2 separate regions of the Homo sapiens genome follow, and region 1 is linked to region 2. The links come from fine-mapping of genetic effects on gene expression. Tissue or cell type: cerebellar hemisphere. Region 2 holds a variant in brackets; the other region holds the start of a gene. All regions are shown on one strand. Distances are between the middles of the regions.

The links. PIP is the estimated chance that this variant, and not a neighbour inherited with it, causes the effect.
Region 1: DEAF1 starts here. The variant in region 2 is fine-mapped to the expression of DEAF1 in cerebellar hemisphere (GTEx, PIP above 0.99).

Annotation. Positions count from the first base shown.
Region 1 is chr11:692,190-697,534 of GRCh38, forward strand. It overlaps DEAF1 (DEAF1 transcription factor), which reads right to left and starts at 3,033. Exons shown (of 12, transcript NM_021008.4): 1 at 2,570-3,033. The coding sequence starts at 2,858. It overlaps TMEM80 (transmembrane protein 80), which reads left to right and starts at 3,627. Exons shown (of 5, transcript NM_001042463.3): 1 at 3,627-3,657. The coding sequence starts at 3,639. RefSeq lists silencers at 2,405-2,654, 2,675-2,794, 2,805-3,104, 3,605-4,024 and enhancers at 2,470-3,009, 3,010-3,551, 3,552-4,091, 4,632-5,171.
Region 2 is chr11:187,388-195,461 of GRCh38, forward strand. SCGB1C1 (secretoglobin family 1C member 1) reads left to right here and starts at 5,691. Exons shown (of 3, transcript NM_145651.3): 1 at 5,691-5,767; 2 at 6,325-6,524; 3 at 7,031-7,188. The coding sequence starts at 5,713. The coding sequence ends at 7,063. The variant G/T (reference allele first, on the strand shown) is at 4,181.

The DNA.
Region 1 (5,345 bases), 500 kb after region 2:
AACTCAGCCCCCTGGCATGCAGACAGGCCCTTCAGCAGCATCTGCACACAGGGCAGTTACCACAGAGGTCAGCTGCACCCCACCTCCTGCCCCTGTCATCCCAGATAGGTCCTGCAGCTCCAGCCTCTACATGCTGGAGTGTTTCTAGAGAAACACTTTCTGCCGCCAACACCCCCACACCCTCCTCTCTGCCTCTGCAAAGTCTTCCTGTGATGCTCCTAGGCCAAGCAAGTGGCTCTTCTGTCACCCAGAGTTCTAGAATGTCCTGTGTCCAGGGCAATCTCTGGCACACAGCAGATGCTTAAAAGATACTGGTTGAATGAGTCCTGACCATACCATTAACCCAGCACTCACCAAACTGCCCTAAAAATGCCTGTTTGCAGCCGGGCGCGGTGGCTCACGCCTGTAATCCCAGCACTGTGGGATGCCAAGGCGGGCGGATCACCTGAGGTCAGGAGTTCGAGACCAGCCTGACCAACATAGAGAAACCCCATCTCTACTAAAAATACAAAATTAGCCGGGCGTGGTGGCACATGCCTGTAATCCCAGCTACTCGGGAGGCTGAGGCAGGAGAATCACTTGAACCCGGGAGGCGGGAGGTTGCGGTGAGCTGAGATCACACCATTGCACTCCAGCCTGGGCAACAAGAGCGAAACTCCGTCTCAAAAAAAAAAAAAGGCATGTTTGCTGTCTGTCTCCACGACCAGACCACACCAGGTGCACGGTTCCCTCATCCTCGCCTCTCAGCACCACAAGCCCCGGCATGCGGCGCGCGGCCACAGTGAGTGCTCAACGCCAGGCCCATGGCAGCCCTGGGAGCAGCCGCCCAAAGCCTCCTCAGGCGGCAGCGTGTCCTGCTGAGTTACTTAAACCTGGAAACCACTTGACGTCAGCTGTTCGTAATTTTTAAAAAGTATTAAAGTGCTTTTACCACATCAAAACACAACTACCATATTTTTCAGAAGAAAACACACGTCAGCACATTTCTCTGACATCATGATGAACAGCATCATTTTTCTTTTATGCATTCAGAAAAATACGTGCAAAAATGACAAAAACCTGAAATCAACCTCATGGCTCCAAATCCCAACGTCAAACCAGAGTTTAGCGACGGACGCCAACCCCTGAGAGTCACAAAGCCTTCCCTCACTTTTTTTTCTTAACCAACCAAACAAGCAGCAGTGACCCCTTTGCCTTCGAGGGCCACTCAGCTGACCAAGGGCAGCCCAGACGCTGCTGGCCCCCACCCAGCCCCCAGGCCGAACAAGCACCCAGAGCACACGCAATGCCCTGACATACCCAGCACACCAGGACTGGGATCCAGTTCCTCAACCCGCAAAGCTCCGTAGGGGAAAAGTGCCTCACAACGCAACAAGAAGCTCCTCCCAAGGGTCTCAACACTGAGCTGTGAGTCCCTGGGGGACACTCGGGAACTCCAATGGGGAAGAATACAGTGCGTTAGGAAGCCAGTGGGTGGGGAAGTCTATGCCCCACGGACACAAGGGCGGGACACAGGAGGTGGGTGGACGGCACCAGCCCCGTAGGGCATCTGTGAGCTCTGCCACGGGCTCCCAGTGTTTTGGAGCCTGAGAAGGAGACTGACCTGTGTGGCAAGAAACTATAAGCAGCTTATATAAAAATGTGGACTGGAAAGCCACAGCAGCCTCCCCAAAGGAAGCCCGACAGGAAGCGGGGCAGGAGGAGCAGGTCCTTAGGGAAAAAGGCAAGAGGAAGAGGGAGGACTGGGAGGGGAGCCTGCACAGGTGGCTCCGCAGCCCCCCTGGGCCACCACACAGCCACGCTGACCTCTGGCATCATGGCCTCCAGCAGGCTGCCCACCCCTGGCTCCCCAGCGCTCAGGTCATGCCTGAACTGGCCCTCAGGAAGTGGGGGGTTCCTGGTGACCACAGGTGCCCACCCACCCCAGGGCTTCTCCAGGACAGGTGGGGGGAGCCAGGATGGACGAAGGCAGGGCAGGGGCAGAGCTGCACAGGGGGGACCAGTAGGAGGCGGGGCTGCCACAAAGAAAAGGGGGGCAGGGGGCAGGTGTGTGCAGGGCAGGGCCAGGTCAGGTGAGGCTAGGCAGGTCACCAGGGGCAGGTGTGCGGGGCAGGTGTTTGGGGTAGGTGGGGCAGGCTGGTCACCTGGGGCAGGTATGTGGGGCAGGTGTGCGGGGCAGGTAGGGCAGGCCGATCACGTGGGGCAGGTGGGGAAGGCTGGAAACGTCGAGCAGGTGTGCGAGGCAGGTATTTGTGGCAGGTGGGGCAGGCTGGTCACCTGGAGCAGGTACGTGGGGAAAGTGTGAGGGGCGGGTGGGGCAGGTGTGAGAGGCAGATGTGAGGGGTGAGCTAGTCACGTGGGGCAGGTGTGCAGGGCGGGTGGGGCGGGCGGGTCACGTGGAGCAGGTGTGAGGGGCAGGTGTGCAGGGCGGGTGGAGCGGGCTGGTCACGTGGAGCAGGTGTGAGGGACAGGTGTGGCGGGCTGGTCACCTGGGACAGTTGTGCGGGGCAGGCGCGCGGGGTAGGCGCGCGGGAACCGGACGAGGCGAGAGGCCGGCGGGCGCACTTGCCTGCGAAGGCTGCGGCAGCGGCGGCCTCGTCGGGGCCGGGCAGGGCCTCGGCGCCCATGTCCATGTGCCCGGGCTCCGCCGCCATCACCGCCACTGCCGTGACCCGCGGCGTCTCCCGCTCCGCCTCCGAGTCTGCGTCCTCCTCCGAGTCCTCGTCCCTGCTCAGCACCGGCTCCTCCGCCTCGCCTCCTGCCGCGGCCGCGGCCGCCGCCGCCACAGCGGCCGCGGCCGCCACCGCCGCCGCCTCAGCCAGGCCCAGCTGCTTTGCCGCCGAGTCCGAGTCCTCCATCCGGACTCCGCCGAGCCTTCCCGAAGGCGCCGTCCGGGACCGCCCGAAGCGCCGGTCGCGGAGCCCGAAGCGGGGCCCGAAGAGGACGCCCGAGCTGGGCCGAGGCCGCCCGAAGCCGCCGCCCGAATAGGGACCGAAAAGGCAGCCAGCCGCCGAGCAGAGCCGAGCCGAGTCCGCCCGCGGAGCGGAGCCGAGGCGAACAGAGGCTGCCCGAGTAGGAGCCGAACCTGCACGAAGCCGCCGAGCCGAGACCGAGTCCTGAACCGAGGAGGGTCGAAGTTCCCCGAAGTGGGAAGCCGAATCAGTCCGAATAGGTCCGAGTCCTCACGAGGGCTTCCGAGAGACTCGGCCCCTGCTCTCCTCACTGTCCTGACAGGCTGAGGCGGCTGTCGTCCCCGGCCGACAGGGCTGGACGGCTCTAGGCAGATTCTCGCCGGCGGCCGGCGCAATTCTGCCTCTCAGAGAGAGCTTAGTGCCGCGGGTTTCGCCCGTTCCCGCCGCCGGCGGAAGCCGAGTCAGCCCGAGGCCGAGCCGAGACGAGCCGAATGTCCCCGAGGCCGAATGCTCCCGAACGTCGGTTCTCCACCTCTTCCCTTCCGAAAGTGCCCGAGCGGTGCCGGACGGACTAATCGGGCCTCGGCCGTGGCTCGGACGTCCGCTCCCGAAACGCGGCGCGGTCGGGCCCCTTCGTCAGGAGACGCGAAAATGGCCGAAGGAGCGCGAGCGCGCGGGCCGAGAGGCTGCCGGGATCGCGACGGACCGGCGGGCGGGGCGGGTAAGATGGCGGCCCCGCGGCGAGGTGAGCTCGGGCGGGGTGGGGGCTTCCGGGCTTGCAGCGGCGGGCGCGGCGTTTCCCTGTGGTGACAATCCGGTTTCCGCTTTCGGTGCGCTCACGGGGCCGTGCCACCGTCTCTACGTGAGCGAGACAGCTCCGTCACCCCATCGAGAAGCGCGGCCTGGCCTGGCCTGGGTGGCGGGCGTCCTGCACCCCGAAGAGCTCCCCCGCGCGCGGGCGCCTGGCCCCGGGCAGGGTGGGTGCGGAGCGGCTCTGGGGGCCCCAGTCCCCGGCAGCTCTTGTCCCGCGCGTGGTTTTTGTGAAGACACGTGGGCGGGATGGGCGCAGGGTTTCGGTAGCCTTGGAACTCTCGCCAAAGAAAATCGCGGGCGCCGGTGCCTCAGCCGTCCTGCCTGAGAGACTCGCCTCCGAGAGGAGGAAGGGACAGACCAAAGCAGTAAATCGGCCATCCTGCAGAGGAGCCGCCTTCTGCTGTCTGTGGGTACAGCCAGAACTCCCATACGCGGGCGCTGAAGTGCCAAACCTTCGTGCGTGTTCTCTAGTAATTAGGTGCATTGTTTTGAAGGAATAAAGAATGGCTACTCCATAGGCAGGACAGCCTCTAGTAACCAGGTTTGTTTTGTGTATTTTCATTTGGTTAAAAATTAAGTTTAGGTTGGGCGCAGTGGCTCAGGCCTGTAAGCCTGACAGTTTGGGAAGCCGAGGCTGCAGGATCATTTGAGGCCAGCCTGGGCAACATAGCAAGACCCCCTCTATAAAAAAAAAACTGTAAACATCAGCCAGGCGGTGGCGCACCCCTGTGGGCCAAGCTATTCTGGAGGCTGAGGCTGGCGGATCACTTGAGCCCAGGAGGTCGAGGTTGCAGTGAGCCGTGATGGCGCCACTGCACTCCAGCCTGGGCGACAGAGCGAGACCCCCTTCTACAAAAAAAAAATTAAAAATTACCCCGGGGAAGGCCAGGCGCAGTAGCTCACGCCTGTAATCCCAGCACTTTGGGAGGCCAAAGCGGGCGGATCACCTGAGGTCGAGGGTTCAAGACCAGCCTGACCAACATGGAGAAACCCCGTCTCTACTAAAAATACAAAATTAGCCTGGCGTGATGGTGCATGCCTGTAATCCCAGCTACTTGAGAGTCTGAGGCAGGAGAATTGCTCGAACCCGGTGGTGGTGGTGGGGGGGGTGGGGTGCGGAGGTTGCAGTTGGCCAAGATCGCACCATTGCACTGCAGCCTGGGCAACAAGAGCGAAATTCTGTCTCAAAAAAAAAAAAAATTACCTCAGGGAGCCTGTGGTCCCAGCTACGTGGGAGGCTGAGGCTGGCGGATCACTGGAGCCCAGGAGGTTGAGACTGCAGTGAGCTGTGATCAGGCCACTGCACTCCAGCCTGGGCAACAGAGCAAAACCCTGTCTCTAAAAAAACTAAGTGTATACCAAAACAAGATTTCTTAACACATCTTGTCCATTACATCAGGGAAAACACTTGTTCTCTTTCACTTCCATGTTTAACTTCTGCCTGACACAGCTATTCGTAGCCACATTGTGATTATAGTAAGTCACTGACAAAAAATGTTGTCCTGAAAGCCAAGGCTACGTTCGGTCAGAATGAGCTCCTGCAGGTCTGGAATTGTTAGAACAGCGTATCTGGTTATAGCCGCCCTTCATATTAATTATTAAAATGTTACATCACTTAAG
Region 2 (8,074 bases):
CAACACAGTGTTCTGCTATTGCCCAGAGGGCACTGAGACCAAATAAAACTTGAAAATGCCACACTGAAAGCAAATAAGTCCTAATAACTCAATTTACAACGACAACAAAGAGTGACACCAATGCCCAAAGTTTTGATCAATATCTCAAAATTGAGAGGCTGACCAAAAGGGAGGAATTCTTACATCAAACAACATTTGGGCTCTGGAAGCCTCCCGAGGAGTCCTTGTAAAGAGTCGCGGCCGGGCGCCGTGGCTCACGCCTGTAATCCCAGCACTTTGGGAGGCCGAGACGGGTGGCTCATGAGGTCAGGAAATCGAGACCATCATGGCTTACAAGGTGAAACCCAGTCTCTACTAAAAAAAAAAAATACAAAAAAATTAGCCGGGCTTGGTGGCGGCAGCCTGCAGTCCCAGCTACTCGGGAGGCCGGGACAGGAGAATGGCGTGAACCTGGGAGGCGGAGCTTGCTGTGAGCTGAGATCGCGCCACTGCACTCCAGCCTGGGCGACAGAGCGAGACTCCGCCTCAAAAAAGAAAAAAGAAGAAGAACAAGAAGAATCGCAACCTAATTTAGTATAGAAACAAACTGAAAATCTGACTTGGGAATGTATCATGGTAACAAATAGCGGCGGTTCAGCCAATCACATCAGCCGAGTGTCAGTCAATGGCCGGCAGCCAGCTGTTCAAAACAAGTTCCAAGAAGGCAAATCCGGGCTGTAACCAGGTCTGTAACCAATCCAGCCACCTCTATACCTCACTTCTGTTTTCTGTATGTCACTTTTTTCCTCTGGCTATAAATATAACCCGCACATGTTGTGTGGCAGATCATTCTGAACCATTTTTGGTCTGGACTGCTGCCTGATTCTAGAACCACAAAAAAAAGCCAATTAAGATCTGCAAACCCACATTTGTTGTAATTCTGTATTTTAACAGTTGTGCCCTACAAAAGACATTAAGCTGAAATTAATTAAAAATCATTTACGGTCATGATTAGGTCATAAAAAATTGTCAAACATAACAATTCTTCAAAAAAAGCTAAAAAGTATATTTTAAAAATATTGTTGATGGAAAAAAGAGTGCAAAAGTAGATAGGAAAATTATGTACAAAACTAAAAACAGAGGAGAAATTAAAAGTCAAATAATTGCATCAAACTGGAAACCTAGAAAAAATGGGTGATTTCCTAGTAAAAATACACATTAACAAAATGGGCCCTGAAATAAGGCAACTATGAATATACCAATTAGCATAGAAAAGCTAAGAAAGGTCCTTAAAGATCTCCCAGTGGAAAAAGGCCCCAGGACCATCTGGGTCCATAGCTTAGTGTAAGCTGACTTAACTAAATGTGATTTTACACTCGTGCATTGCATACATATGATGGTGGTCCCATGACATAAAAATGGAGCTGAAAAATTCCTTCCTAGCCATCTTGTCATAAGCTCATGGCTCAACGCATTACCTTTTCTCTGTTCTGATACCATGAAAGGAAAATAAATCTCAGGACCCCCAAATCACTAAGCCAAGGGAAAAGTCAAGCTGGGAGCTATGTCAGGCAAACCTGCCCTCATTCTATTCCTAACTAAGATAGCTACAAAGATAAAAAGCTACATACCTCACTCACAATTTGCCCACAAAGAATTTCCTTTTGGACAAAGGACAGACAGCACTCAAAGTCATCCCTCACCTGAGACAGATGCATATCTGATTGCTTCCTCTGCCCTATTATTTATGTAAAAATGCAGATTCATTGAGCCAGACTAAATTGTGTATTCAGTGGAAGGCTGATGAAGGATTCAAAAGAATGCAACCTTTTGTCTCTAACCTACTTCTGACCTGGAAGCACCCCCACTTCCTGCTTCCAGTTGTCCCGCCTTACTGGGCCAAATGACTGTACATCTTACACGTCTCATGTATCCCTAAAATGTACAAAAGCAAGCTCTACCCTGGCCACCTTGGACACACGTCGTCAGGACCTCCTGAGGCTGTGTCATGGTCGTGTCCTTAATCTTGGCAAAATAAGCTTTCTAAATTGACAGAGACGCGGCGCGCCGGCGCAGGCGCACAGAGGCGCGGCGCGCGGGCGCCGGCGCACAGTGGCGCGTCCCCTGGGGGGCGGGGGGAGGCGCGGCGCAGGCGCAGAGACGCACGTCGTTAGGCTGTGGGTTTGGGGGGAGGTGGGTGGTGCAGACGCAGAGTCACGCGCCACCGGGACGAGAGCGCGGGGGTGGAGCGTTGTAGGCGCAGAGACGCACGTCCTCGGGGGCGCGGCGCAGAGACGGGTTGAACCTCAGTAATCCAAAAAGCCGGGCTCGGGCGCCCCCTGCTTGCAGCCGGGCACTACAGGACCCGCTTGCCCGCGGTGCTGTCCCAGTGCGCCCCCTGCTAGCGACTAGGGCAACTGCAGGGCCCTCTTGCTTACAGTGGTGGCCAGCGCCCCCTGCTGGCGCCGGGGCACTGCAGGGCTCTCTTGCTCGCAATATAGTGGCGGCACGCCGCCTGCAGGCAGCTAGGGACGTTGCAGGGCCCTCTTGCTCACAGTGTAGTGGCAGCACGCCCGCCTGCTGGCAGATGGGGACACTGCCAGGCCCTCTTGCTTGCAGTGTAGTCGGGGCACGCCCTCTTCTGGCCGCTGGGGGCACGACAGGATCCTCTTGCTCACAGTGTAGTGGCAGCACGACCCCTGCTGGCAACCAGGGCACTGCATGGTCCTCTTGCTCATGGTGTGGTGCCCGTACGCCGCCTGCTGGCAGCTGAGGACACTGCAGGGCCCTCTTGCTCACAGTGTAGTCGTCGTACGCCCCCTGCTGGCAGCTGGGGACACTGCCGGACCCTATTGCTGTCGGTGTCGTGGCAGCACGCCACCTGCGGGCAGATGGGGACTAGGCAGGGCACTCTTGGTCCCGGTGTGACGGCCTCCTGCACCACTAAAGTCAGAGCGCCAGTTATTAAGCCCCATCAGTTCTGTAAATTCAAACTGAAACGGAGCTATTATTGGGGAGAGCTGATGTCCCAGTTCTTGTTTAACTTGGAAGAAACATTTTCACCAAGAGGCAATACAAAGATGGCAGATAACTTCATTGAAAAGAAACACAGTGTAAAGAGTTTATTGTAGAAAAATAGGGAGGAGTGGGCTGAGCGTGCATTAAAACAGCCTAAGAGTCCTGTGCAGGGAATTTTATTTTGGATTTCTTCACATTCCTGCCTCTGTCTCAAGTCTCCACCTGTTTTCTTTGTCTGGTTTTCCTGCTACTGCCTTAGCTCCCCAACTTGCCCCACTTAGGCTTGTGGGACCTCCTCACTGTTGGTTGAGGTACATGTGTGGTGATCAATACGAATCCACTCTGGCACCAGCCTCCTTCCCGCCATCCCAGGCACACTGACAGCGATCACGTTTGTACCTACTGCGCCTGCCTCTTTTGAATGTCCTTCTCTGCCCTAATCTGTACTTATGGTGCCAGGTTTCTCTTAAGAATGTCCCCTTTGGCCTTATCAGCATGTAGCTAGCAATATTCTGACATTTTTATTGCAGAGTGAATGATTGGGGCATCTTCAGAGGAGTTCTAGGGTGTTTCTTTCTGCATAGGTACCTCTTTTCCCTCCTACCCACAATTGACAAGTGCCCATCCACTCCAGCACTAGAGATGCTACTAATATGTGAATTTTTGGTGGTCCCTCCAGGTGAGCCTTCCCAGACTTTCCCTTTTCCAGGAGGCCCCCTCCTGTTCATGTCTAGCTACCTATCTACTCTAACAAAGCCCACTATCCTGTGTCTTTCCCAAAAATAGTGAGGGAACGATTAATTGGAAACCATAAGAAATGATATGGATATAGACGAAAACTTTACAACTTACACAAATAATCACTCAAAATCATCCTTACACTAAAAATGCAAAACTATACAATTTCTAGAAGAAACAATAGAAGAAAAGCTATCTGCCTTTGGGTTTGGTAATGAATTTTAACAAATGACACAAAAGGTAGATATACACAAAAGAAGTGACAGTGTGGATTTCTTAATATTTAAAGTTTATACTCTGGAAGAGACCTTGTTAAGAGAACAAAAAGACAAGCCACATATTGAAGAAAATATTTGCAAAATACACATCTGAGAAAGAATTTGTCTTCAAAATATATAAAAAATTATTAAAACTAAACAATAAGTTAAACAGCCCAACTAAAAAT[G/T]CACACACATCTGAACAGACACCTCACCAAAGAAGATCTACAGATGGCAAGTAAACACATTGAAACCACAATGTGGTTACAATTGAAAACCACAATGAGATAGCACAGCTGGTCTATATCTGTTAGAATTGCTAAACTCTTTTAAAAATGACAAATTGCTGAAGGAAAAACAAGAACTCTTTTCATTGCCAGTGGAACACAGCGTATAAGACCAAAATACGCCACCCCAAAACCTAACCCTAACCCTAACCCCTAACCCCTAACCCTAACCCTAACCCTAACCCTAACCCCTAACCCCTAACCCTAACCCTAACCCTAACCCCTACCCCTAACCCCTAACCCTTACCGGTGACCCTACTGTATCCCTGACTCCTAACCAACGTTGATCCCTAACCCTAAACCCCTTACTGTAACTATAATCTTCATCCCACCCTATCCCTAGCCTTAGTGCCATCCCCCAGGCTTTTTCCAGGATGGGATTTTATGTGATTGTTTCGAATAGGTGGAAATCTCTGCTCATTTAGGAGTCGTTCAATGTAACAAGGATCTTGGTCTTCACAGAGACCCTAAACGCGTGTGGCCCAGGGCCATGTGGATGCCATCAGCCACTAGGTGGCAGCAGGGGCCCTTTGGATTTGAACAATGCAGCTCAGTCAGAGGGCTGGACTGGGACACCCCTACTCATGGTCTCTCTTGGCATGGTTTTGTTTGGTGACTCCAGGTGTCCCAACCTCCTGTGTCCATTGTAATATGTCCTGGGACCATCTCCCCCAGGGCCTTCAACCTGGGGGGTTGAACCCCAGGATAGCAACCCCAAGCCCTCCTTGCTATCCTGGCTACTGATGGAAGATGTACCTCAAGCCTGTCCCATTCCTCACTTCCTGCTGAGACCTGGCCCCAACATGGCCAGCTCTATGTTCCTCAGACCCTCTCAGGCCACCTTCTCTCTTCTAGGCACTGTCACTGGGCTTCTCCCCACCCCATAGATCCACAGCCCCCAGGTAGTCCTACAGCTGTGTCCACTCGTGCAGCCTGCACCCCCTTCCCCTACTCGGCCACCCCATCTGAGTAGTAAGGGGCCCCTGCCTGATTGGAGACCCCCAGATGCAGACCCAGATCACACAGCACACTGATAAGAGGAGGGATTCGCACCTTAAAAGAAAGGCGTGGGACCAACCCCAGATCCCACCACTCTCGGCCTCAAGGGCAGGCATGACTAGAGGCCCTTGGTGGCCAGGACCCACTGCCTTCTTCACCGATCAGTTGGCATGGCCTCTCACCAGTGTTCCCTCCTAACACACCTGTTCTCTCTCTCACACACCCTAAAGCCGCTTGCCAACCACCTGTCACACAGCCACTCCATGCCTGTTGCTGCTTGGCACCCACTGGGGGCCAGGGATGTGAACAAACCTCATCTAAGCTGGCTGCCGGGTCCTAATGGGCAGGTCCGGTCCGCCCTCTAGGAGAGGTGCTGTCCGGTGAGGCATAAAATCCCGGGATTCTGGCTGGAGGCAGCTCCTGAGACTGCTGGCATGAAGGGGAGCCGTGCCCTCCTGCTGGTGGCCCTCACCCTGTTCTGCATCTGCCGTGAGTCTGTGCCACTGGGGTTTCCAGAACATTCAGGGGTGGGGGGGAGTGGGGGGTACCTGAGAAGGTAAAATCCTGGCATCGGGCCTCTGCAGTGAACACTCCACCTGCTTCTGTCACAGAAGTGGGCAAGGACCCTGCAGAACCCGCGCCCACCCTACTCCACCCCAACCAAGGACAAAGCCCAGCTGACCCAACACCAGCCCAGTGTCTCCTACCCCAGCCCAGTCCAGCCTGACCTGACCCTTCAAGCCTCTGGTCATAATAGCCTCTCATCAGGGGAAATTTCCCCCACACCAGGAGCTTAACTTTCCTTCCCTGGTGATCCCAGGGAATGCTGAGTGGAAATTGGAGCAGCTAAGATTAAGGGGGATGTGGAGGGGTCTTCGGGCAAGGTGGAGTTGGAGGTGTTGTGGAGGAAGCCCTGGGGAGGAGAGGTGGGCATTGAAGGGGAAGGTCTGGAGACCATGGAGGTTGGAGCCCTGGGGCAGGTCCAGGGCTGTGGTTGCACCAGAGTCACCCTGTCCTGTCCTGGCATCATCTCGCTCGTGATGCAGGGATGGCCACAGGGGAGGACAACGATGAGTTTTTCATGGACTTCCTGCAAACACTACTGGTGGGGACCCCAGAGGAGCTCTATGAGGGGACCTTGGGCAAGTACAATGTCAACGAAGATGCCAAGGCAGCAATGACTGAACTCAAGTCCTGTATAGATGGCCTGCAGCCAATGCACAAGGCGGAGCTGGTCAAGCTGCTGGTATGAGGGCGGCGGGCACCCCATTTTCTAAAGATCTGCAGCCTTACCAAGACCACCCAACACAGCACCCACACAGCCTACCCCACCCACAGACATCCACCACCCACAGACATTGCACCCGCATCAGCCAGCTCAGGTGGACACCCCAGACCTCCTGTCCACCGAGCAGCCCCCAGACTCCATAGACCTCCTCCCCAGTCTGTGGGATACTCCTCCATGCACACATGTGAACATACACAGAGATCCAAACACAGGTGCAGACATGAAATGTACACTGCGTGCACACATGTATAAACACGTTCACACCCACATGCTCACACTGGGATATGCACACACATACATGTGTGCACACCATCACATGTGCACACACACCTCCCAGCTGCTGGGAGGAGATAGGCAGCAATATGCCAGACCCCCCCCCACTGAGGGCCTTGCTTGCCTGATGGAGCTGTGGCTCTCCACTTATTGAGCACAGCCCTCTTAGTCCACATGTGTCTGCCTTCCAGGTGCAAGTGCTGGGCAGTCAGGACGGTGCCTAAGTGGACCTCAGACATGGCTCAGCCATAGGACCTGCCACACAAGCAGCCGTGGACACAACGCCCACTACCACCTCCCACATGGAAATGTATCCTCAAACCGTTTAATCAATAAAGCCTCTTCCGCAGCTCAGGCTCCTGTCTCTGCCCCCACAGAGGGGCACACAAATGGGGACATCAGGAACACACTCGGGGCCACAGCCACACACACAGACCCACATACAGAGGATCCCACTCAAGGAGCACACGTGCGAAAGTCCCCACAGAGGGACACACAAATGGGGACATCAGGAACACAGGGCCACAGCCACACACACAGACCCACATACAGAGGATCCTACTCAAGGAGCACACGTGCGAAAGTCCCCCACAGAGGGACACACAAATGGGGACATCAGGAACACAGGGCCACAGCCACACACACAGACCCACATACAGAGGATCCCACTCAAGGAACACACGTGTGAAAGTCCCCACAGAGGTACACACAAATGGGGACATCAGGAACACAGGGCCACAGCCACACACACAGACCCACATACAGAGGATCCCACTCAAGGAACACACGTGTGAAAGTCCCCACAGAGGTACACACAGGGTCCACACAGGAGCAGGCACACCACAGGCAAGACCCAAAATGGAAATCCAGGCAGACGCCACGTAGGCAGGTGGACAGAGCACAGAGCCAGACAACACTGCGTGGTCGTCCGGAGGGGGCGTCTGGAGGGGGCGTCCGGAGGGAGACGGGCGGCAGAGGCAGCGGTATGAGGTGGGAGCCCCAGAAAGAGGAAGTGTCCAGGACTGGGTGGACACAGACCCCATGTCGCCCATGGGCTAGGTCAGGGCGGGGGTGCTCAGCATCTGAAAGCTGGTGTCGAGCCCCAAGAGGACCCCTGACAAGGCCAAGAAAAAGGTACACCCATGTCCAAGGGGGTTGGGAGCCGCAGGTGAGCAGCCTCTGAGGTCAGCCAGGGCAGCCCCAGCGCCCACACTGACTCACACCCACCACAACCA